7 linked regions of the Homo sapiens genome follow. The protein of the gene in region 3 purifies or fractionates together with the protein of the main gene of each other region. This does not show direct contact. Each region holds a gene or a part of one and is shown on either strand. Other genes may lie near its edges.

Evidence for each region.
Region 1: the proteins of ATP1A3 (region 3) and RIMS1 purify together in Homo sapiens (co-immunoprecipitation; one large-scale study listed by IntAct). This does not show direct contact.
Region 2: the proteins of ATP1A3 (region 3) and GPNMB purify together in Homo sapiens (affinity purification with western blotting, with the first as the bait; one study listed by BioGRID). This does not show direct contact.
Region 4: the proteins of ATP1A3 (region 3) and ITM2B purify together in Homo sapiens (co-immunoprecipitation; one large-scale study listed by IntAct). This does not show direct contact.
Region 5: the proteins of ATP1A3 (region 3) and RER1 purify together in Homo sapiens (co-immunoprecipitation; 2 studies listed by BioGRID and IntAct, with this or other methods). This does not show direct contact.
Region 6: the proteins of ATP1A3 (region 3) and GPAT4 purify together in Homo sapiens (affinity purification with mass spectrometry; one large-scale study listed by BioGRID and IntAct). This does not show direct contact.
Region 7: the proteins of ATP1A3 (region 3) and ATP6V1A fractionate together in Homo sapiens (co-fractionation; one large-scale study listed by BioGRID). This does not show direct contact.

What each region holds. Positions count from the first base shown.
Region 1 is NC_000006.12:72,250,050-72,253,549, reverse strand, and holds part of RIMS1 (regulating synaptic membrane exocytosis protein 1), read right to left. Parts: intron 3,221-3,500; coding exon 3,090-3,220; intron 2,630-3,089; coding exon 2,458-2,629; intron 2,336-2,457; coding exon 2,182-2,335; intron 790-2,181; coding exon 718-789; intron 1-717. UniProt on the Homo sapiens protein: Rab effector involved in exocytosis. May act as scaffold protein that regulates neurotransmitter release at the active zone.
Region 2 is NC_000007.14:23,260,275-23,263,774, reverse strand, and holds part of GPNMB (transmembrane glycoprotein NMB isoform b precursor), read right to left. Parts: intron 3,320-3,500; coding exon 3,002-3,319; intron 1-3,001. UniProt on the Homo sapiens protein: Could be a melanogenic enzyme.
Region 3 is NC_000019.10:41,966,082-41,970,230, forward strand, and holds the end of ATP1A3 (sodium/potassium-transporting ATPase subunit alpha-3), read right to left. Parts: coding exon 4,104-4,149; intron 3,500-4,103; coding exon 3,354-3,499; intron 2,835-3,353; coding exon 2,704-2,834; intron 1,683-2,703; coding exon 1,581-1,682; intron 1,260-1,580; coding exon 1,168-1,259; intron 885-1,167; coding exon 856-884; 3' UTR 501-855; downstream 1-500. UniProt on the Homo sapiens protein: This is the catalytic component of the active enzyme, which catalyzes the hydrolysis of ATP coupled with the exchange of sodium and potassium ions across the plasma membrane.
Region 4 is NC_000013.11:48,239,706-48,243,205, forward strand, and holds part of ITM2B (integral membrane protein 2B), read left to right. Parts: intron 1-3,500. UniProt on the Homo sapiens protein: Plays a regulatory role in the processing of the amyloid-beta A4 precursor protein (APP) and acts as an inhibitor of the amyloid-beta peptide aggregation and fibrils deposition. Plays a role in the induction of neurite outgrowth.
Region 5 is NC_000001.11:2,394,841-2,398,340, reverse strand, and holds part of RER1 (protein RER1), read right to left. Parts: intron 2,558-3,500; 5' UTR 2,551-2,557; coding exon 2,470-2,550; intron 1,226-2,469; coding exon 1,121-1,225; intron 1-1,120. UniProt on the Homo sapiens protein: Involved in the retrieval of endoplasmic reticulum membrane proteins from the early Golgi compartment.
Region 6 is NC_000008.11:41,612,700-41,616,199, forward strand, and holds part of GPAT4 (glycerol-3-phosphate acyltransferase 4 isoform 1 precursor), read left to right. Parts: intron 1-145; coding exon 146-261; intron 262-1,686; coding exon 1,687-1,742; intron 1,743-2,263; coding exon 2,264-2,349; intron 2,350-3,500. UniProt on the Homo sapiens protein: Converts glycerol-3-phosphate to 1-acyl-sn-glycerol-3-phosphate (lysophosphatidic acid or LPA) by incorporating an acyl moiety at the sn-1 position of the glycerol backbone. Active against both saturated and unsaturated long-chain fatty acyl-CoAs.
Region 7 is NC_000003.12:113,778,035-113,781,534, reverse strand, and holds part of ATP6V1A (V-type proton ATPase catalytic subunit A), read right to left. Parts: intron 2,795-3,500; 5' UTR 2,782-2,794; coding exon 2,700-2,781; intron 486-2,699; coding exon 357-485; intron 1-356. UniProt on the Homo sapiens protein: Catalytic subunit of the V1 complex of vacuolar(H+)-ATPase (V-ATPase), a multisubunit enzyme composed of a peripheral complex (V1) that hydrolyzes ATP and a membrane integral complex (V0) that translocates protons.

The sequences.
Region 1 (3,500 bases), on a different chromosome or scaffold from region 3:
CTCTCATTAGTAAATTTTTAAAAAGTATAGAATTAGTGCCAAGAAAGTAAGTCTTTACCACTTGATTTTACACTTTTCTGACAGAAGTCAGATGAGAAACATTTAAACCCTACAACATCACAAAAGTTTTACTAACTTACACAATGACAAAGAGATGTTCACTTCAAATTAATACTTAATCTTTCTTAAACATATTATTGTATTAAAACATATACACACATTCTAGGTATAATCAGTGGGAACACATCACAAAAGCTTTAAAAGTTACAGCCATGCCACATGCAATTTTAAACCCCGCCATGCACCTTTCTCAGTATATTCCATGGAGGGCTACATTATTTTCAGAAATGGTGGAAGGAAAATCATAGAAATGCAAATATAAAACACAGAAAAATGGAATTTTTATTTAATAACCCCATCTTTTCAAAATAAAATTCGTATTTTCACTTACGCTCAGAGCATTGTGAAATAATGATTTGTTTCACTAGTTAGACATGTTTCTACGGAAGAACCTCACTATGGGAATGCTAATTAGTAGAGACTAGTCCATTTAAAACTTTCTTAATAATTTGAAATGTAAGTCACCATGGAATAATATAATACTGATTTCTCTGTGCTATAAATCTTCAGTTTAGTATCCTAAAGAGGTCCGGAAGCTGACAGAGAAAACAAGCAAAGCAGCACAGTGAAGCAGGGTCATGCTCCTCACCCACGCACCTGGAGGAACTACGCCAATACCATCATCAACCTCATAATCTGAGATGTCACTATCACTGATTCGCTGAGATCCTGCACAACAGTAAGGCAAAGAGATACTTCTGTGTCTGGTTGGTTTATGAAACGTAAAGAGCACTGTCAAACTTTTTTTAAAAAGTGAATTGCATTATTACTGAAAACTTATGAAGACTAATACAGTAAACACTGAGCTAATTTTAAAAGAAATGTTTGTTCTCTAAGGATAACATTTTATCAGTATTTTTTTCCTCATTACACCAAAGACATATAGAAACAAGGGGACTTCACAGAATAAGATTTTCAGATTAATTCTTTAATTAAAATATTATACTAAAAGCCTTCAGCACAGTATATACAGTACATTGTTTTCTACACAATTAAGTGCTTTCCTCTGCAGTTCAGAGAGAATAGGGCTGAGTGGAAAGGTTCAGAGACATTTCTTGGCTGGAGCTCTATTCAGCCTATATTAATGAAAAAACATCAGGGCCCTTTATAAAATATTTATGTTTAGCTCCCCAAATTAGTCATTATACTTCATTAAACATTAACTTTGAGGAAATTACTGATCAGGGAAGCATCAACATGAAATATTTAATTATGTGAGAAAAATAATTTAGTTCCAGATTACCAAAATGAGGCTTCTTTCAGCTGTTAACTTAGAAATGTAGTTATGACACAAAAATTACTCAATAAGTACAGAAAAAAATAGCTTTTCCCAATCACTAGATGAATAGCAATAAACATACCTTCTAATATTTTAAACAACATTTCTTATGAATAACTATTAAAATATCTATGAACTGGCTGGGCATGGTGGCTCACACCTGTAATCCCAGCACTTTGGGAGGCCGAGCCGGATGGATCACAAGGTCAGGAGTTCAAGATCAGGCTGGCCAAAATGGTGAAACCCCATCTCTACTAAATATACAAAAATAAATTAGCCAGGCATGGTGGCGCACTTCTGTAATCCTAGCTACTCCAGTGGCTGAGGCAGGAGAATTGCTTAAACCCGGGAGGTGCAGGTTGCAGTGAGCCGAGATCACGCCAATGCACTCCAGCCTGGGCAACAGAGTGAGACTCTCTCTCGGTGGGGGGAGAAAAAATCTTTGAACTATAAAGTTATTAAGACTTCACAGGTGGCAACTCACCAGTGATGACAGAAATTATTCCATCAGTCAATAACCAACAGCTCAATTGGCCCTGTGCAAGAATTTTAATTCAGAGGTTTTTGGCTTGCAGCTCTGCAATTACTCTGCTATGCTATCTACATTATTTTCATTGTGAAAATGTAGAAACAGTTTTGCCAAGTTGCTTCATAAAGATGAACAATTTTCCAGTATTTTGATCTCTAATAAAACATTTAAAAAAAACATCTTGAATTATTAATCACTAATTAGATCATTACAGCATAATTACTTTGTGGCAACTAAAAGGACCTTAACCTACTTTGTAGCTTTTTGCTAGAGCTTTCTCCATGAATATGTCGCCTTGGCATGAAAGGTGATGGCTGAGGCAGAGGTAGTGAAGACTCATCATGTGTCTGAAGTTTATACCAATGCGGTTCATCATCTAAAAGCGCTGTCTCCAATTCTATGAGGATCTGAGAGGGTAATTCTCAAATTAAATCAAGTACCTTTATCAAAACATAATGTAATAGTAATCATAATAAATATCACAAAACTTTATTAACTATTTGACTTGAGTTTTTAAAATATACATCACCTCTCCAAGAAATTCACTTTCTTCTTCTTGCACTCTTGGTTGGTCCCACACAGTTATTTCTAACATTCGTTCTCTAAAATCTCTACGATGTACATGTGAATAGACAAAAGTTTGATTCCATTTTGGTTCTAGTATTTTCTTTACTGTTTTGGTCCTCCTTTTACTTTTATCACTGAAAAATAAGTATGTTTTGTAAATGAAAAAGCAAGTACATGCTGCCATCTACTGTAGTTACATGTAAAACTGCCATTGATATTTATATTATTTTAACTAATAACTCATGGAAAGTCTATAAAAAGATAATAGAGTTTAATAATATTCTAACTTCAGTTACAATATAAGCAGTATTGTAATTATAGGGACACATACAAAGGTACATTCTAAATGATGTGTCGCTATCAAAGACTAATATACCTATAAACAAGGTAATAGATTTTTTTAATTGACAGATTATTTTCAAATATTTCCAACACAATTTCCAACACTTGAGGGACTTCTTTTTTCAGAGATAATGTACTTTTATCTCCTCAGAATTATCTATTATATTTTTTAAAAACATCCCAAAAGAGAAAATTCTACCTTTTCTATTAGTACAGATTTTAAGATTTTTTTTTTCTAAAATTATTCACTACCTTCTATCTGGAAGAAAATACATTTTTACATAGGGATTTCGAGGACGTCCATCTACTCTAGCAGGTAGATCTGTTGCTTGCAGAACATTTACAATCAGCTGGTGTCCCACTTTATCATACCACAACTTCACCTAGGAGCAATGAGGAAAGGAATTATTTGTAAAAATCATGAGGCATTACAATTTTACATAAAACAAAATTCAAGTTATATTTAAATGAGGAAATTTTGAATTACAATATAATGCAATTACAGATATTTCTAAAAACACACCAATTTGAAAGCATAAACACACAGAACTTTACTTTTCTCTTTGAGTACTTTAAACATAACCTACAACTGGCAGGCCTTCAGTGTTACTGTATATTCTCACATATCATTTTATAAAATAAAACTAATAATAATTTTTCCAA
Region 2 (3,500 bases), on a different chromosome or scaffold from region 3:
TCCCTCCTCGCTCTCCCTAAGAGAGATGCTGGTTTAAGGCATTTTGGGGTTGATTATGATTGATCTAACACCTTTAGATAAAGCCAGGCAGCTTTCCTTCGCAATAAAACTTAACTAACTTGTAGGGGTTGCTAGTTTATATCTTTTTTTTTTTTTTTTTTTGAGACAGAGTTTCTCTCTTGTCGCCCAGGCTGGAGTGCAATGGCGCGATCTCGGCTCACTGCAACCTCCACCTCCCAGGTTCAAGCGATTCTTCTGCCTCAGCCTCCCAAGTAGCTGGGATTACAGACACTCTCCACCACACCCGGCTAATTTTTATATTTTCGGTAGAGACGGGGTTTCACCATGTTGACCAGGCTGGTCTCGAACTCCTGACCTCAGGTGATCCACCTGCCTCGGCCTCCCAAAGTGCTGGGATTACAGATGTGAGCCACCATGCCTGGCCCACTAGTTTATATCTTATGGTGTCACCTAGGGAGAAATTACAACAGAAATTTTAAATAGCTTTTCATTGGCTTCAAATATATTTTTAAAACATGCTATGATATAAATAGTTTATAAGAAAAACAAGCTAGTTTAATAAAAATGCAATTCAAAGTAGACTAACATTAAACAACCTAACATTAAGTCTTTTACCATTCTGGAACTTAAATATTAAAAGCATCTGTAATTTATTTTGAATTTTATACCTGGTCCTCTTATTTGTAAAGAAGATCATTAATAGTTGTAGATAAAAAAAATTGCTTCTCCTAAAGGATTACTAGAATGAAGCTGTATATTTAAAGTTGTTCAATACAGTTATAATTGTAGTTGGAATTAGGATTAATCTAATCATCCATCAATAAGAGAATGGTGGGCCGGGCACAGTGCCTCACGCTTATAATCCCAGCACTTTGGAAGGCTGGGGTGGGTAGATCACCTGTGCTCAAGAGTTGGAGACCAGCCTGGGCAACACGGCGAAACCCCATCTCTACTAAAAAATAAAAAAATTAGCTGGGTGTGGTTGTGTATGCCTGTAGCCACAGCCACTTGGGAGGCTGAGGCAGAAGGATCACTTGAGTCCAGGAGGTGGAGGTTGCAGTGAGCCAAGATTGTGCCACTGCACTCCAGCCTGGGTGTTAGAGCAAGACGCTGTCTCAAAAAAAAAAAAAAAAAAAAAAAAAAAAGAGAATGGTGAAATAAATGACAGTACATACATTCTATGAAACACTATGCAGCCACTGGATAAAGTGAGATAGACTTATATGTATTAACAGTGGAAAGATGTCTATAATGTTTGTTAAATTAGAAAAAGAGCAAATTGTAAAACAATATGAATAGCCCTCTTGTGTAAATGAACCCATTTACACAACCAAAACAAACCTTATGTGTATATATAGTATATGTTTATAAATGCATAGAAAAATATCTGGAAAGAAATCCTCCCAATTATTAACAGGGTTTAACTCTTGGGAGGAGAGTACGAGTGGGGACTTTTGCTTTTTACTCTAGACATCTACATTGTTTTAATTTTTACTAAGGAACATGCATAAACTTTGTAATTTAAAACATTTTTGAGATAATCGAAATCAGTGATAACTTGTGTTGTCTTGACTTAGATATGCTTGATTTAACAAGCTCTCATTTTATTACTAACATCTTATTGTAAAACTTTATAATTTATAACAAACAGGATTTTGTAAAAACAAGAAGCCCCAGACGTCATGATGGACCGTCGTGGGCTTGGTCCCTGGCGCCCTCTTGTGACCAGTGAGAGGATGTCAGCCTATTGCTATCCCCAGGATCCTGGGGTGCTGAGTGCAACTGGCCCAGTGGGAAAAGGGTGGTGATGGCATGGGGTAGCGTGGGGAATCAGATGGAAGCCAGTGCTACCCAAAGTGGACTCTTAAGGACTTCTTGAATGTCCCCAGACTATTAATATAGGGTGGTATTGAATTAATCATGCCTTAAATGCAGCACAGTTTTATTTTTATTTATTTTTCTCTTTTTTTTAAATTTTACTTTAAGTTCTAGGGTACATGTGCACAAAGTGCAGGTTTGTTACATATGTATACATGTGCCATGTTGGTGTGCTGCACCCATTAACTCGTCATTTACAATAGGTATTTCTGTTAATGCCATCCCGCCTCCCTACCCCTACCCCCCGACAGGCCCTGGTGTGTGATGTTCCCCGCCCTGTGTCCAAGTGTTCTCATTGTTCAGTTCCCACCTGTGAATGAGAACATGCGGCGTTTGGTTTTCTGTCCTTGTGATAGTTTGCTCAGAATGATGGTTTCCAGCTTCATCCATGTTCCTACAAAGGACATGAACTCATCCTTTTTTATGACTGCATAGTATTCTATGGTGTATATGTGCCACATTTTCTTAATCCAGTCTATCATTGATGGACATTTGGGTTCATTCCAAGTCTTTGCTATTGTGAATAGTGCCGCAATAAACATACGATGCAGCACAATTTTAATGTCAGGAGTCACTGCAGCTTGCTAACCCAGACATACTCTCAAGCTACATTCTTTCTTGGACCATTTGGAAATTGCTTTCAAGTACAGCTGTGTTTTCATGGACACTGGGTAGGTGTGGGCAGGGTAGGGAAAGAAATTAGTGGGGGAGAGGAAGGAACATAGAAATGACCTGATCGTATAAGGAGCCAGTGTGCCTTCTCATAGCCATAAAAAATGGGAGATAAACAAAAATGTGACAGGTTAGAAGAGGGGAGAGTGTGTACACATAGCAGGGACCAGTGCAAATGAGGAGGGTCAAAGAACTTTCTACAAGTCACTGAATTCTATTTGCAAAGTGACTTTACATACATTCTTCCTTCTTCTGTGTTCTATAGGTGTAAAATGGTGATAACTTTGCTTTAAAAAATCAACAGGTAGAAAATGGAATCACCGCAGAGTCCTTACAATATCCCCTTAAGGAGGGATTTAATAATATGACCTGCGTGAATATTTTGTTAGCCATTAAGGAGCCTCCCTCAAAGATCACTGCGAAACCTTACCTAAAGAAGGGGTGGGTTTTGAAGGTCTGGGTGGTGGTGGCGGTGGCGGACAAGGTCCTGGTGCTGCAGCTTTCACAGTGAGGTTAAGGCTGAAGGTTCCATTGAGCACATACGTGTGATTCACAGTATGATTGGTGGAAACAAACAGGCCAGTATTATCCCCGAAGCTCCACTTGTAGTTAATGGTAGAATAATTGAGGAAGTGGCTAGGATCATGAATCAGGACATCAAACATAATGGGGAGATCTTTGAGGAAGGTTTCGTCGGATGAATTTCGATCGTTCTTCTGGAACATAGTCACAAACACAGGAATCTGATCTAAAAGATACATCCCCCAAAGAAATAAAGAATGCATGATTGCTTGATTGTAAGTGGAGGGCTTCGACGATGCTTTTAGGTTGAAATATTAAAATGAGGGATAATTTAGCATTATTTTCCTTTTCACATGCAAGTTTTCTGGGGTTTCCCTAAGCTATTCTGGAAAACAGATGAACTACAA
Region 3 (4,149 bases):
ATGAAAGTTTATCTCAATAAAAAGAGAGAATAGCGTAGTGACCTAGAACTTTGGACAGCCTTGGTTCAAATCCCAGATTTGTCTCTTCTTAGCTGTGTGCAAATCACTTCTTCTCTCTGTGCACATTTAATGCACACTTAGAAGTGGGCAGAGCACATAGCAGGCACTCAGTGAATCACTGTCATCACCATCATCATCGTCATTGTGTCCCCTGGGTCCTACTCCTATAGGAGAGGCTCCCAGTCACCATCCCACGTCTGCTTCCCTCCCTCTCCCCTGTTCTGATTCCACAATGCCATCGCCTGGTGAATTCAAGCTGCTCTGACTTTCGTGGAGTTGAAAACTCCGTGATTAGATGGCTCTGAGATTCCGTGACTTCCAAGCCAGTGCCAGGCTAAGTTCCTGCAGTTTCGAGAGTCGCCTGGCAGCGCGCCCCAACAGAGGGGATGCTGTCCCAGCCGCAGTCCCCGTCTGGAAAGCAGGCACAACACACACACCGCTTCTCTCTCCCCACTGATATATTTGATAATTGTCCAGAACCAGAGATGGCATCAGCCGGGGGGCTGAAGGGGAGTAAAAAAGAGCCCAGGGAGGTGGCTGGGGCGGGAGGAATGGATAGAGGGGTGAGGAGAGGGAGAGAAACTGACACAGAAAAGAGAGAGGAGAGAGGTTTGGGGCAGGGGAGAGAAGCCAGCCAGAGTGGGGGCGGCAGGAGATAGTGGAGGGGGTGGGGGCCAAGGTGGGGCCACAGGAAGAGAGGGCTCCTCCCCCCAGAATACAAAATTGGGGGGACTGACAGGGGCGGTCCTGGGCCTGGGGGACGGGGAAGAGATGGGCGATGTGGTGGGGCTGAGGTCAGTAGTAGGTTTCCTTCTCCACCCAACCTGGAGAGACAAAGAAGGAAAGAAAGAGACAGAGTAAGAGATGGAGAGAGACAGGCAAGGCGAGCCGCCCAGCAGAGAGAGGGACAGAGAGGGAGAGAGACAAGGAAACCACACAGACAGAGACCCGTGAGAAGACAGAGTGGGTGCCCGGAGAGATGGGAAGAGAGAGAAGAGTGGGAACCAGGTGGCAGAGCCATCCAGCAGGGCGAGGGGAGCCTGGGACCAGCTGCCTGAGACCCTGCTGCCCCCCGCCCCCCTCGGCTGCCTTGCCGAGCTCCCTCACCCCCTGGGTTCCTGCGCAGGATGAGTTTGCGGATTTCGTCGTAGACGAAGATGAGGAAACTGTAGGGGAAGGCACAGAACCACCAGCTGGGCCTGCAGAGGGGAGAGCAGGAGGGCTTGAGTGCGGGGCCCTAACGAGAGGCAGAGTTTCAGGGGACTGGAGGGGACGCAGAGGGGCAGTCTCCCAGGATCCTTCGTGCTCACAGGTGGAGGGTGCCCTGGGCGGGGCTGGGGCCTGGGGTCTTCGGAGTAATCCGTGGTGGGAGCAGCCTATGGGGGAGGCTCGGGGGCATCAGAATGGGGACTGCAGTGGGGACACCAGGGGAGGTGGGGCCTGAGGTTCAGGCTGAGTCTAAGGGAAGGCTCCATGGCAGGCGCTGGTGTGGGCAGGGCTGGGGGCAGCGGGGCACTCACTTGAGAGGGTACATGCGCAGGGCCACGTCCATGCCGGGGCAGTAGGACAGGAAGGCAGCCAGGGCCGTCTCCTCAAACAGCCCGAAGATCAGGATCTTGTTCCTGGAGGCACAGAAGGGCAGGGCTGGGCCCAGAGAGCACCCACCCTGCACCTGCCACCCCGCAGAGACAGGGGGAGGCACAGTGCAGACACCCAGAGACAGCAGCACAGACACAGAGACAGAGAGGCAGAGACATAGGGAGAGACAGAGATGGGGAGACATGCCCCGACAGAGAGAGACAAAGATAGAGGCAGAGCGATGGTGACACAGAAAGAGACAAAAGACAGGGACAGACACAGAGACAGGGACAGACACAGAGACAGACAGGGACAGACAGAGAGACAGACACAGGGACAGACACAGAGACAGGGACAGAAACAGACACAGAGACAGGGACAGACACAGAGAGGCACTGGTATAAAAAGAAAAGGCCAGGGGCACCTCCACCACACACACAGAGGCTGAGAGAGAATCTAGGACACACAGGACCCCTTGAGAGAAAATCAGTGCAGTGGCAAAACCCAAAATGGGCTGGGCATGGTGGCTCACACCTGTAATCCTAGCACTCTGGGAGGCTGAGGCAGGAAGATTGCCTGAGCTCAGGAGTTTGAGACCAGCCTGGGCAACATGGTGAAACTCTACTAAAAATACGAAAAATTAGCCGAGCCTGGTGGTGCGTACCTGTAATCCCAGCTACTTGGGAGGCTGAGGCATGAGAATCGCTTGAACCCGGGAGGCGGAGGTTGCAGTGAGCCAAGATTGTGCCACTGCACTCCAGCCTGGGCAACAGAGCAAGACTCTGTCTCTAAATAAATAAATAAAAATTAGCCATATATGATGGTGCACACCTGTAGTCTCAGCTACTCAGGAGGCTGAGGTGGGTGGGTCACTTGAGCCCAGGAGGTCGAGGCTGCAGTGAGCTATGATTACACCACTGAACTCCAGTCTGGGTGACAGAGTGAGACCCTGCCTCAACAAAACAACAAAAAACCAAAGCAAGGACACAAGAGGAAGTACACAGACAGACAGACACTCGGACAGGACAGATGGCTGTCCAGTCACCATGTGCCCCCGGCCCTCACTTCATGCCCTGCTGGAAGACCGAGTTCCTCCGGGTCTTGCAGATGATCAGATCGGCCCACTGGACGACAACGATGCTCACAAAGAAGGCCGTGTGGCAGGTGAACTCCACCACCTTCCTCTGCTCGTATGTCTGCAGGAGCGGTGACCAGGGCACGGGACGTCAGTTAGTGGCACTGCAGCCCTAGCCGCCACCCCGACGTTCCGGTGCTCTTTGCCCCGCCCCATCCTGCATGGGGTCCTCAGGGCCTCAGGTGTGTCTTCCTTCTGCGGGCTCATAGTCCCGAGGGAGGAGTCAGGAGACGTACAAGGAAGAAGAAAGGTTAATGGTGATCTCACCATCCACCAGGGGCCAGGGAGGAGGATAAGGACCCTGTGGGCCTCCCAAGGAGGACAGACAGCAACTGGGCTTTGAAGGGACAGACAGAGGTGGGGAAGAAGGCCTGGCAGGGCAGAGAGCTCCAGCAGTGGGACACAAGGCTCCAGATGGGCTGGGCCAAGGGCATCCAGGAAGCCCCAGGTGCCCAGCAAAGGCCTTGATGCTGCCATGGGAGACTGAGGGGGCCATCGTAGGAAGTGGCCATGCATGGCTGGAACAGCTCACCCCGGGGATCTTACGGTGGGCAGAGACACAGCACCCTGCCCTACTCACCCACTGCTGCCCGTAACTGTCTTCCAGGTCATTGACGGTGCGGTCATCCCAGTTCAGCCGGATGCCCACCAGGTTGCCGGGCAAGAAGCCATTTTCTGCCAGGATCACAAAGTAAGAGAAGAAGCCACCGAGAGCCTGGATCATTCCTGGAAGGAGGAGAGAGGAAGCCGAGGAGAGGCTCAGATTGGGGCCAGCAGCCAACCCAGGGCACCTCAGAGGGCCCGGAGGCCTCCTTGGAGAGGGGAGTATGCCCTCCTGGCCCTGTTATCTGGACATTGGTTCCCAGAGGGTGACCTGAGGTCTCACTTGGTGGTGAGGCCCTGAGATGGGTGGGCCACCTGGGACAGGGGCTTTGGAGAGAGGGCTCTCCCAGAGGGATAACCTGGAGCCCCTCTCTCACCTGACCTAGGCCACCTAAACATCATGAATTCTTGGGGGATCCCCAGCTTGAGCTCCCTACGCAGGAATGACCTCCCTGGGCCTGGAACCACTGCCATGAAGTCTCTGCTTGCTGGGACAGCCCCCAAGGGTGGCTGCTCCACTCCTCTGGGGATCCGCACACATCAACAGCAGAGAGGAGGAGGTGGAGAAGGATGGGGTGCAGACCCCCCCCACAGATAGCTCACTGGTTGGTCCTGCCCACGTCTGCTCCCCTGAGTCAATGCCAGGGTCCCAAGCACCCACGGTGGGCCAGGCACTGCTCTAGGCCCGGCACTGGGTGGTAAGGAGATGGAGTCCCCGGTGCCTCACCAATCTGCCCGTAGGCCATGCTGATGAGTCTCTCATTGACCAATTT
Region 4 (3,500 bases), on a different chromosome or scaffold from region 3:
AGGCAAGCTAAAAATCAGTACTATTTTAATTTATACAACAATTTTAGCCCAAAACACTGAAGGCATGGGCCACTATTTTATAATCTCCTTTAAAGTGGAACGCAGGACTGGCAAATTATAGCCTATATCTTCAAATACTGCCTGCCTGCTGTTTTTCTGTAGCCCATGGGGTAAGAATGATTTTTATATTTTTTAATGGTTGGGAAAAATATCAAAGGAATGATATTTCTCCTTTTTGCCCAGTACCCTCACTGAATTGTTGGGGAGGGGCTGCTGCTATTCAGGAAGCAGCAGCACTAGCAGAATTCAGGTTATACAGTCATTCTTCAAAAGATTTAAATTTTGTCTCTATCACTTACTTTGATACCTTGGGTAAGTTACTTCAGTTCTCTGTGTCTCAGTTTTTTCATCAGCAAAATAGGGAAAATAATAATCTGTAACAATAATAGCACAATGCCTGGAACAGAGTTAAAAATTAGTAGATTTCAGCTACTGTTATTTTTATTTATTTTTTTGTTGAGAAACAGTCTTGCCCTGTCACCCAGGCAGGAATGCAATGGTGTGATCTTGGCTCACTGCAGCCTCTGCCTCCCGGGTTCAAGTGATTCTCCTGCCTCAGCTTCCCAAGTAGCTGGGATTACAGGCACCTGCCACTATGCCTGGCTAATTTTTTGTATTTTTAATAGAGACGGGGTTTCACCATGTTGGCCCGGTTGGTCTCGAACTCCTGACCTCTTGATCAACTACTATTATTAAAGTCCCAGTTTTCTCTCCTCATCATTCTTGTTTTGGAATATTACTTCTTATATTACTGTTACTGCTTATCCCTGCCTCACATGTCAGTAACAATATTGTTGGTACTTTTTTCACAGCAAGGCATTCTGGTAAAGATTGATTCCTGCAACATAAAAACCCTTAGGATTCAGTAGCTGTACCGATTTCATTTAAAAATGTTATTTATTCATTACATAATAGGTGTTAATAGAATTTGAGTTTTACCAAAGTAATACTAAATTTTAATATGCAAATATATAGTCCTGCCCTATGTCAGAGGAACATACTTTAAAAAAATTGTAGCATCATTGTATACAGTAAAATGCATAGATCATGAGTGTACAGTTAGATAATTTTAAGTCTGTATACCTGGGCTCTAACTCCCAATCAAGCTGAACATTGTTATCAACTCAGAAAGTTATCTTGTGTCCTTTTACAATTTGTTCTCCTTAGAGGTAACCACTATTCTAATTTTTCTCCCCATAGATTAATTCAAAGCAATCATATTCACTTATTAGCTTCTTATGGTCTTTTATTACCATGGTGACCACTAGACCCTCTTCTGCCTTTGTGCAATTTAGAAAAAGATCCCCTCTCTGGTGGTTTGGAGAATAGAGCATCAGTTGGTTTCTAGACCTACTGATTCCCTTGGCCTGGCATCCTTGTACTGGAAACAACCTGCCCAACCATACATGGCGATCTTAACTCCATGTTTCTCACTTTTTGCCCCAGTAGGGCGTGGTGCGGCGGGCAGCAGAGTCTTGCTCTGTCACCCAGGCTCGAGTGCAGTGGCATGATCTCGGCTCACTGCAACTTCCGCCTCCCAGGTTCAAGTGATTCTCCTGCCTCAGTCTCCCGAGTAGCTGGGATTACAGGTGCCCACCACCACTCCCAGCTAATTTTTGTATTTTTAGTAAAGACGGGGTTTCACCATGTTGACCAGGCTGGTCTGGAACTCCTGACCTCAAGTGGTCCACCCACCTCGGCCTCTCAAAGTGCTGGGATTACAGGCTGAGCCATAGCACCTGGCCCTCCATGTTTCTCTTTTAACTCCCTATTTCTCTAAATCAGTGGTTGTTAAACATTTTGCTCTGAGAACTCCTTTATAGTCTTAAAAATTGTTCAGGATCCCAAAGAGCTTTTGCTTTATGTAGGTTATATATATTTCCAAATAACCAAAAAGATTTAAGAAGACTAACAGTAACATTGTTTTACATTCGGCAGTGCCCTTTATTGAATAGCTTAATAGAAGATAGCCGGATTTTCCTATCAAATTCTTCATTCAGTCTGTTGTGATATGGTGCTTAGCTTCTGGAAAATTGCACTGTACAATTTTTATTGTATATAAACATAGCGAGAGAATGAAAGTGAAAATGACAGTTTTATTATTTAAACTAACACAGTCTTAGTTTTATTATGAAAAAAGTTTGACCTTGTGGACCCCCTGAACGGGTGTGTTCCTGGACCACATTTGCAGAACATCTATTCTAAATATTTGCTTATACTGCTGTTTCATGGTTTGTTTTCATTTGTTTTATTTTTTGCAGTTTTAGATAATACCTATTGATAATAGCTACATGGAAGGTGAATATTTAGCTTTTTCTGAATATTTACACACTGCACACATGATCTCTTCTCCTGTTCTAGCAATTTCTGGTTAAATTGATATTTAGTGTTTTTTATTATAATTAACATAAACATTAGTTACATTTGAGTATTGTAGTATACTTTTATTTTACTTCCATTCTTGTATAACAACTTTTTATTTTCCCTGAATTTGATCATGCTTCTTGGGGCAGGAGAGAGGGTTCCTTAATTTTCTACATACTTACTGCTCATTCATTCCTCAGACTCTGACAGCAGTATAATTGTCTTTCTGTGTCTTCAAACTCACCAGGTAACTTACCAAGTTTCTTTCTTTCTTTCTTTCTTTTTTTTTTGATGATTTCTTGCCCATCATTCATTAGTTTTCTATTCCAGACTGGTTGCACTCATACAAATGTCCTGAGAGTCATAATCATCTTGGAAGAATTGCCTTTGTCTTTATCACATGCTAGATCTACAGTTTCATAAATCTGAAGAAAAAGATAAATTTTTAAAAAATCTTACGTGTCTCAGAATCGTTATTCCATCCTCATATTTGATAATTTATCTGGGTGTAAAATTCTAGGTTAGCATTCATTTTTCTCTCAGCATTTTGATGGCATTGCTCCATTATCTTCTAATGTGATGCCATTCTGATTCCTTGTTTGTACATGACTTTTTTTCCCCCTTTGGTTGTCTACAGGCTGGTGATTTTCTCCTTATATCTTTTTTTTCTTTTTTCTTTTATGCTTTCAGCTTTCAACATTTTTATTGACATGACTTGTCTGCTGTCATTCATTTTCATTCTTTGTGGCTTAAGGTTTATTTGTTTTATCCCTTTACTGTCGCTTTATTGAGCTTTCAGGAGGAAGTAAACAAACATTTCACTGGAAATCAATATTAGAACTTCAACTTAGCTATCTTGATAGCTTTTTAAAGATTTGTTAGAATATTTCCTTTTACATTAAAAATTGACTTAATGATAATTAATAATGGATAATAATGGAAACCATCTGAATTACCATTAGCATTAATTTAAGATCAGACAGGATGGTCTAGAAAGATTGATGAGGCATCCTCTGATCGTCCTCTTCAAAGTTCCAAGATTGTCTCCTTCATGAGGAATTTTAGAGGCAACTCAT
Region 5 (3,500 bases), on a different chromosome or scaffold from region 3:
AGCTTTTCCAGTCAGACGGCTGAACGCCAGATGTGAGGGCTAACTGATGTCTGTGTGTCCATCCCTGGCTGAACGCCGGATGTGAGGGCTAACTGATGTCTGTGTGTCCATCCTCGGCTGAACGCCGGATGTGAGGGCTAACTGATGTCTGTGTGTCCATCCTCGGCTGCAGGGCCACACCTGAAGAGACGCCAAATGAGGCACGAGCTTGGTTTCGAACGCAATAAAACTGACCTGTGGGTGCTGCACTCTTCCCGCCCCCTGCTCCTGCCTGAAGTCCCTGATTCAAGATTTCTAGGTCATTCTTTCCATCAGAGAATGGACCCAGTTCCAATTTAAAAACAAAAATAAATAAATAAATTAAGGTGTGTGCTTTAAACAAGGAAGTATCTTCTACAGTCCCCAGAGGAGAAAATAGCCCAGACAAGGCTTTCAACATGCCCTGCTCTGCACATAAGATTATGTAACCTCCTCTAAAGACCGACGAAGAATTCCCATCTTACAGGTTTGCTCCTAGAAACCCCGTGTTTACCAGCAAGTAAAGGAGCACCCAGGTGAAGTCTGAGACGACATCACCTGACCTAGGGGTGCCCGAAAACACACGAAGGAAACCCTCAAGACCCCCTTCGGTCACTGTCTCTCTTACTTGACTCGGCGTCTCAACCTGCACTGTGCTTTGGCCTCACACAAGGGAGAGCTCAGGAAAAGCTACATAAACCCTTTGGACGCCGAGTCATTCATGACACCCAAGGCATGGACTCTTCACCCAAGGAATGAGGCAGCCACAGAGCGCAACCTTGTCCTGAGCATCATGCAGCAGGGTCGGAGGGACACCAGCGGCTCCACTGTCCAGGCCTGGACGTGCCCAGGGCAGGGCCAGGCTGGGCTCAGGACGGCCTGGGTATACTGAGAAGCCTGGCGAGGCGACTCCGGGTGAATCATAAACAACCCTGTTCGTTAAAGACAGTCACTGAGATCTTTCTGACATTTGGCGTTTAGCTGAAAATTGATTACTAGAGACCACTTCCTGCAAGACAGACTGGATCAACAACATCCCCACAAACATCACGCCCAGGTAACGTGGACAGAGCCAAGTCTCGTCACTTCAGCCCACACCTACCTGCAGCAGGTAAACTCGAATCATGTAGACAAAGCTCAGGCCCAGTGTCACGACCCATCGCACAGCCGTGTAGGGTGTGGACTTGTCTAGCCAGGACTGATAAATCTAGAAAGACAAGAGTCCAAAAGCATGAAGCAGGTCCTGTAACTTCTGTACTGACCCTGCCACAAAATGTACCTTCTGCTAGGGTTGGCTTTCAATTTTTAAAACAGCTAAAAGAGTGAGTTAAAATAGCAAGAGATCATCTATGTATCAGCACAAAGAAGTGACTACAATTAATCCAAAGTTTATTTTCAATAATTCCTGAAGCAGGTTCATCTCTTAAGCAAGACTATTACAAAACAATCTCCTAGGAGACTGTGACATTGTGCTGGCCCCAAGGGATCACTATGGGGAAGACCCAGCCTCACCCCAAAGAGAGGACTGTGCATCTCAAAGTCCCCACCCTACAGCACAGCCCTTATCGTCACATCTCAAGTCAGCTCCCCCATCTGCAGCAGCCAGCAGCCAGCCTTGCCCCGCTCCCAGGCCCACTGGCCACAGCCTGAGCCCCAGCAGCCACACCCACATGTGTGTGCGTCCAGGCGGCTGTGGACATGACCGAAGGAGCCCTTAGTTTTATGTATTTATTTTTACAAATATACATATGTATGGTTTTTTATTTTAATTTAGAAATTTAATTTTCAAATTGTGAGAAATTTCCAAATTCACAAAAGTAAAAAGATTATAGAAGCTTACATATGCCTGTCACCCAACTTCATTAATCGCCAATCGCTTTTCATATGTGATTTAATTAAGGTGATGAATTTTTATTTGAGCCGGATCCTCAGCACCTGGAACTGCCGGTGACCCAAGCTTTTCCTGACAGAGGTTCGGACTCCAGCGTTCAAAGGCAGCTCTAGGTCCCTCACTCACCAAGCAATGCACACGCAGCCCACACAAGAGCCTCTCACCCTCAAGGACAGAACCGCCGAGCTGACACGGGGCAGGTGGGGCTACCAGCACCGGGGACGTGGGTGGCTGGGAGAGGGACAGCAAGAGCAGAACGGCAGCCACGGCCGCATCTGTCCTGCCTGGGAGCTGAGACTGGGTTTTATATTTTTAAAGCTTGGTAAAAGGAAAACAGAAACAGAAAACGCATATGTTTGATAGACCACGTGTGGCCCCAGAGCCCGATCTCTCCACAGCTGGCCCTTCACAGTGAAGAGAACGCTGTCTTCAGGAAGTTTGAGCCTGAGGCGAAGTAACTTCTCCATCAGGAACACCAGCAAACAGATCCTTCCCGAAAATGCTGGGAGTCCCGTTTCTTTTTCAAATATTTATACTCATCTACTAAAAAACCCACCAACCTGTCCAAGTCTTGTGAAAAATCTGTACACCACCGAAGGTTTCCCATGGACGGATTCTCCCACACTGTCCCCTTCAGACATTCTGTAACTGGGAGAAAAACACAAAATACTTTTCAGTAAAAAGCATTCACGGGTGTGAAATCCTGGCCCTATTTTCACCAACACTGTCAAGTAGGTTTCTTCCACATTCAGTATTTTGTCCATATACCATTTGTGTTTTTACCATGAATTGTTCGGGAAAAAGTAGCAGGTACACAGGCTTCCCTGGAGAGGAAGGGCAGCGTGAGACGCATGGGCCCAGGAGCACAGGCCGCATTTTCATTCCCACACTGGCACCTCAGTCACCTGCGTGGGCGGGACTGTCCACCCCACTGGCCCCAGGAGCAGCCTTGCTGGCCATGGGGTCCACTGGCTGGTCCATGGCACGTGGCACTGCATGTCCTCCCTCCAAGGACCGCACCCTCTGTGGATCCCTCAGGGTTCCCCCGCCCAGGCACCTTGTCTGCTCCACGCCCTGTCCTGGGTCTCTGGTCTGGCAGGAGCAGGAGGGATCCTGTCCTCTCAGGGCCAGGTCCTCCACCCCATGAACAGGAAAATGTTATCTACAACTCTCAGGTAGTCCATCCATCTGCGTCCCAGTTTCTTATCTGGCAAGCGGAGGTAACGTATCTGCTCCTATTTCAACACTGCTGTGATGCCATGAGGAATTCACCTGAGAACCCAGGTGCCAGAGGTCACATTGTTCACCCACTTAATTCCCAGATGCTCAAGTGAAGGGCATCATGACCCCCATTTCACCAAGTCTCAAACAGTGGAAGCCACGTGTCCAAGGTCCTGCCACAGCCCTGCTTCTGGGCAGGCCAAGCCAAGCCTGACTGCCACCTGGCTCCTCAGCTGAGCACGCCGCCACCCCACTCCTGAGAGGAGACGGCGTCAGGACCTGCCGCTCTTCGGTAAAGCACAGCTCAGTACCCAGGGCCTGCCGGTTGTCATTCCTACTTTAAAGATGAGAGGCCTCCTGGCCCCTGAGC
Region 6 (3,500 bases), on a different chromosome or scaffold from region 3:
TTTCTTGGCAGTGAGCAACCTTCAGCCGGCAAGCGTTAGAAGTGAGAAGTTGGACTGCTTATTTTGTGAGATGTGGTTCTTCCTAGAGTGGGGAGATTCGTGTGAAGATGGCTTCACTACTAATGAGTCCTGTGCCTGCGCTTAGGTGGGTCAAGTGCACGGGGGACTCATGGGTGTGATTCAGAGAGCCATGGTGAAGGCCTGCCCACACGTCTGGTTTGAGCGCTCGGAAGTGAAGGATCGCCACCTGGTGGCTAAGAGGTAATGGACAGAACACTGCTGTTCTGCTTGGCCAGTTAGAATGCTGAAAAGGTTTCAGGGTAGTTATCCCTCCACAGTGCAGTTACGTGCCTTCTATCATAAGCCTATACTGCTTTCATAATAATTTTTTCCTAAAACATGAAATTTTAAAAGTGGCCGGGTGTGGTGGCTCATGCCTGTAATCCCAGCAGTTTGGGAGGCCGAGGTGGGCGGATCACTTGAGGTCAGGAGTTTGAGACTAGCCTGACCAACATGGTGAAAATACAAAATACTAAAAATGCAAAAATTATTGACGGGCATCTGTAATCCCAGCTACTAGGGAGACTGAGGCAGGAGAATAGTTTGAACCAGGGTGACAGAGGTTGCAGTGAGCTGAGATCGCGCCATTGCATTCCAGCCTGGGCGATAGAATGAGACTCTGTCTTAAAAAAAAAAGTATAGAAACCCTAGTATTATTTACCAAGTTAATAATGTTTCTTAACCTTTTTTTAATTCATTGTACCCATCATAATAAACAAAATACGAATTTTTACTGCTATTTGAAACCTCAAAATGAATTCATTTATCACAAATAAAAAGAAACCTAAGGCAGTGGAACAAAGTACTGCCCTGTTTTCAAACTTTAAGAAGGTGAATCTGCTGTAAGTAATGCAAAGAGATTTGCAGCAGACAGAGACATCAAGACAGTTGAGACCAAGCCACACATGGTGGCTCAGGCCTGTAATCCCAGTGCTTTGAGAGCCCGGGAGTTCGAGACCAGCCTGGGCAACATAGGAAGACCCCCATCTCTACAAAAAATTTAAAAATTAGCTGAGCGTGGTGGTACGCTTCTGTAGTCCCAGCTACTTGGGAGGCTGACGTGGGAGGATCGCTTGAGCCAGGGAGGGTGAGACTTCAGTGAGCTATGATTGCACCACCGCATTCCAGCCTGGGCAACACAGGGAGACCCTGTCTCAAAAAATAACACATAAGAAAAGACAGTTGAGATTATCTTCCATAGAGACAGATGAACTCTCCCCTAACTCCCTTTGCTACATCTCAGGGACAGAGCATCGAGCCAGCAGGGCTGGGCCCAGCCTCACAACTGTTACATAGTCTAGTGACACAGGTTTATTGAGGGGGCCATGCCCAGGCCTTGTGGCAGGTGTCTCTTTCAGGTGGCCCCCAGGTTGAGTGGCATCATTGGTGCTCCGATGTTCGCACAGAATTGAACAGTTCTGTGAATTAAATGGTAACCTGATTTTTCTCTATCCATATACATTTTTTCTTGATGAGCATTAGATTATGGGTTTAAAAGGATACAGTTATGCTTGTTAACTTTTTATAATCGAAACTAGTGTCACAAATAAATAGGTTATTTATAAACATATTTTGACGATGTGTATAAGGTTGTCTGACCCTTTATTTTATTTTCTTCTTTGAAAGACTGACTGAACATGTGCAAGATAAAAGCAAGCTGCCTATCCTCATCTTCCCAGAAGGTAAGAAGGGGTTGGTTGCCACGAAGGGCTTCTGTGGGGAGTGCAGGAGTGTGATGCTGATGTTTCCTGGGAACCAAGGCCCTCAGCCCTTGTTGGGGTTATCTGTTTTCACTGAATAATGTTAGGTCCCCTTTAGGTTGGAAGTAGGACTAAAAACTCAGGTAAGTTCAGAATTTGAACTAAGAATGCCATAGTGTGAACTCCCCAAATGCAGGAATTTCTTCTGTAATGTTTCAGCTCCTCACAGAGCTCATGGTGTCCTCCTAAGGCCACTGCGCGTCTCTGCTTTATCTAGGCTGTGTGTATGAATCAGGGAAAGTGGTCCTGTAGAAAGAGAATCGGAGGCACCATCTTGCCTGTCTCTGTTAAGTGTTTGTTTTTAAGTTAGGGAGATGACAGATGTATCTTACTGGAGGAACCATTAGAAGAATTTTGACTATTATACTTAGTCTTTAAGAAACGCCTAATATCTGGGGTAAAGGGCCAACAGAAATAGCATTTTATTGTCTCCTGCATTTTAGGAACCTGCATCAATAATACATCGGTGATGATGTTCAAAAAGGGAAGTTTTGAAATTGGAGCCACAGTTTACCCTGTTGCTATCAAGGTATAAGACCTCCGATGGTACACACTGTCATTACTGGAGCTGCTGTGAGTGGGGTGCAGCAGGAGGAGGTAGAGGAAGGAGCTGGGGTCACCAGTCTGTGGTCGATGCCCTCAGCAGAGTGGCGTGGGGCTGGGTTGACGTGGGTCAAGTGCTGCCGGAGGAGGATGGTGAGTGCTCAGCACCCCTTAGAAGGGCCTGGGGAGTGTGGAATGGGGGACAGCCAGATTCCCGCCTGCATGCTGCTGCCGCCACCATTCGGGAAATGGCAAGCCCTTCACTTATTACCTTGCTTCATAAACCTAGCTGGAATGTAGGCCCCTCCACATGGAAAGCTGGCTGATTGCAGGGCACAGTGGTGTGGTTTTAAGCTGGATTTTTGCATTTTGGGGGAGCCATGAGGATTGGGGGGGGGGTCATTACTCCAGCCCAGTGGGAGAAACAGCTTCACTGCTTTTAGTTGTGTCATCTTTTAGACCTACAACAGCTCCTAACAATGAGATGGACCCTGGGAGTTTATCTAGTCTACGTCGACCCTTTAGGAACTGCTCCTCTAACCCTTCAGACACCCAGAGCTATAGGATGTGATTAGCTAGTCATCTGCACATTGTTCCTCCCCGCTCTTACCCTCTTCACATCCACCAGGCCTCACATCATGACACCTACAAAACACAGGCCATCCTCAGTGTGGTTAAAGTATTTAGGCTGCAGCCTGAGAGCTCGATAAAATGGTGAGCAGATATGAGTCAGGCTCACACTTAGAATTTCTTTTGTAGGGGACTGGGTTGTCTGCAGAGCATTCTGTAGAGTTGGTTCTGACTTTCTTTTCACCTTGCCAGTGCCACTGGAGAGGTGTTGCTCCTGGTGAGGCCGATGCTCACCAGCCACTCACTGTTTATCATTTAGGCAGAGGACCAGGCCAGGGATGGCAGATGAATATTGCCTGCAGGGGACTCTGATTGACAGGCTAGGACTCACCAGAGCCTGAGGATGCTGTGTCTGGAAACAGCAGGAAAGAGGAACATAGTCTGTTAGCAGAGTCTGCCTTGGGTGTGGGAGTGGGGACTGGCATCTGCATCCTGCATTCTGGCAAAACGAGGACAGGTGCTTTGCAGTGTGACCGTGATGCTGGATGGAAGCCCTTACTGCTGCCT
Region 7 (3,500 bases), on a different chromosome or scaffold from region 3:
TTTTTTTTTTCTTTTCTGAGATGGAGTCTCACTCTGTTGCCCAGGCTGGAGTGCAGTGGTGCGATCTCTGCTCACTGCAACCTCCCACCTCCAGGGTGCAAGCGATTCCCCTGCCTCAGCCTCCCAAGCGGCTGGGATTACAGGCGCCTGCCACTATACCCAGCTGATTTTTGTATTTTTATTAGAGATGGAGTTTCACCATGTTGGCCAGGCTGGTCTCAAATTCCTGACCTCAGGTGATCCACCTGCCTGCCTCCCAAAGTGCTGGGATTACTTTGTGTGAGGCACTATGCCTGGCCTAAATCCTTAAATTTTGAAATATAGAAAGTGGCAGGAAATTGAGCCAAAAAGGATACAAGTTTCTTCATACACCTGAATAGTAGCCATGTCACCCTCCAATCGAATAATCTCTCCAACCAATTCGCTGTGGCCCACTCTCACCAGCTCATACATGGCTGCACCCGCCATGTCACAGGCTGTAACCACTGAAGAGAACAAAAGACTATTTTGATGACTTAAGACTCTAGTGCTCTGTGAATAGTCACAAATAATTAAAACACCCAATAAACCCAGTATTGTGCCTCTCTCATATATTCATAAGAAGGATAAAAACCTACTATGGAACATACTGGTAGTTTCACATAGATATATATTTTAGTGTATAATATAAAGAGGTAAGCCAAAGATTATTTATTTACATAATATACATGAAAACTTTTCAAACATTTCAAGTTCTGCATGGCAAACTTACCTGGTAGGATTCAGGTATGTTCTGAGAGTTGCTATGATACATGGAGTGAAGGCTTTGGAACAATAAAAAAAACTTTTAAAAGTAGAAATTGGAATAAATGGTTTGGCTAGTAGTATGGTAGAATGCCACACAATTATCACTTCGCTGTGCTGTTACCATTTCCTTTGAGAGACAGACCTAAAGCAACATGTTTACTTTCTAATAACTTATAGCAGTAGTTCTTAAAACTCTTCTGGGACATGGACCCTTTTCAAAAACTAATAATAGCTCTACTAGAAAAACTCACACACACATCTACAAAATTTTTTTCATAGGCCGTAAGGATATTTATAATCAGTCACCACCATTGGGTAAGAAATTGTCAATGGAATTCCATTTACTGAACTTACTATTTTGGACCATGTGGTCTAGTAAGCAAAAATTACTTTTCTAGCAGGGAAGGAAGGTTGCCATATTTTTAGACACGTGTAAGAATAAACCAATTTTTAATATTTAGCCTTCTGATACAACTGATTAGAACTATGTTATAGGTAATACTTCAGTGGAAACTATTAAAGCTTTATGAGTTAATTAACCTGTGTAAAAACAATGAAGACTTATTCATTCTATAAATATTTACCTCTATGCCGACTACTTAAGAATTAAGATGCACTGAAATACCAGAGATAATGAAATTTAAAAATCATATTTCATAAGCCAAAAAAGGATGCCATTGTTCCATTACCTTATTAAGTACTTAAGAATTAAAAATTGCAGGAGGCAAGGGGAGGGAGAGCATTAGGACAAATACCTAACGCACGTGGGGCTTAAAACCTAGGTAACAGGTTGATAGGTGCAGCAAGCCACCATGGCACATGTATACCTATGTAACACACCTACACTTTCTGCACATGTATCCCAGAACTTAAAGTAAAATTTAAAAAAATTTTTAAAATAAAATAAAAATTGTTTCCAGGAGCAGTTTACTACACAGTTTCACAGAATATTTTTTCCTAAACTCTCTGATGTTCTTTTGCCTTTTCTCTAAAGGTTCTTGGGTTTAGTCTGTCCATCCTGAAGACCCTTATGATCATTGAGAGGACAATTATTTCTCTGCATGGCAAAAGATACTGATAACCTTTTAATGACCTGCCAATGAAATCAAGCTCAAACACCAAGTTCTTGGGGGAGAAAAAAGAGGCACAGTGACTGACAGTCTTCATTTGCGTAAACATCAAAAAACTGTCATCACCACTACTCTAACTAGAACAAGAAAAAGACTATATAGCATGAGGTTTTAAGGATAATACATCACTGACCAGGTTTTACTTAGAGAAACTGTGACTGTGAATCACATTGTGTAGTGGGAGTATTCAATAACAAAACAAATACTGGCGTAAGATTTATTATTTAAAAAGCAGCACTCCATGTTTTGGCAGAATGGACATAAAGTTTGGGTCCTAAGACTTCTTTCCCACAGGTAGTTAATAATGTGACACTTAAAATAACCATTCAAAAAGTTTCATAAATGCAAAGGGCAAAAGCTAATATTGCTGAGAAATGCTCTGAGCGTTTGAATTATTAAAGTTCAAAGCAAATTAACATTTACTGAATGCCTGCTATATGCAAGGTATTACATATTAAAAGCTATAAACTTCATAGTTTATTTACCTCAAATTTAACAAAAAATTAAGACATATAAAACTGAACACTGGTTGAACATTTACATAATTATAAACAGGATATCACAAAGTAGTACCTCAATAATTATAAAATTTAGATAATCAATGCTAGATGAGCCCTTATGACAGAGATTCTACTTCGGTCTTATAGTCACTATGAGATCGCCTAAGGACAAACAGAATTTATGCAGGTAAACAGAAAGTTGTATATTTCTATGTAAAATATTTTGAAAAGACATTAATCAAAGTTAGATATCCTTATTTTGAGATTATGATGTATTACTTACCAGGTCCTGAGACCCCATGCACATAACCAAATGTGCTTTCTTTATCTTCATCGAGTATTTTGGGTAGCTTGGAAAAATCCATAATGTTAGTTTACCTATAGTAAATAAATAAATAAATAAGTTATAATTATAAACCGTAAAGCAAAAGACCCAAAATATAGGTAGTCCACTAAGATGAGACCACTCTCATCTTTGGTGTATTCTTGAGTTATTATACTTCTTCAAAGTAGAATAAAAAAATTCCTTTTCTTAATTTAAAAAAAATTTTTAAGAGGCTCTCTGTCACCCAGGCTGGAGTGTGGTGGTACAGTCATAGCTCACTGCAGCCTCAGACTCCTGGACTCTAGCGATCCTCCTGCCTCAGCCTCCCAAGTAGCTATGACTACAGGTGTGTACCACCATGCCCAACTAGTTTTTTGTTTGTTTGTTTGTTTGTTTTTTTGAGACAGAGTCTAACTCCACCACCCAGGCTGGAGTGCAGTGGAAGGATCTCTGCTCACTGCAACCTCTGCCTCCCGAGTTCAAGCAATTCCTGTGCCTCACCCTCCAGGGTAGCTGGAATTACAGGTGCACGTGACCATACCTGGCTAATCTTTGTATTTTTAGTAGAGACAGGGTTTTGCCACGTTGGCCAGGCTGGTCTCAAACTCCTGACCTCAAGTGATCCACCCACCTCAGCCTCCCAAAGTGCTGGGACTACAGACGTGAGCCAGCCACTGAACCCAGCCAAAATTCCTAAAATGTAGTTAAAAGTACCCTATTCCTGGATGCTGGATGGTTTTATCACAACTGAATTATATC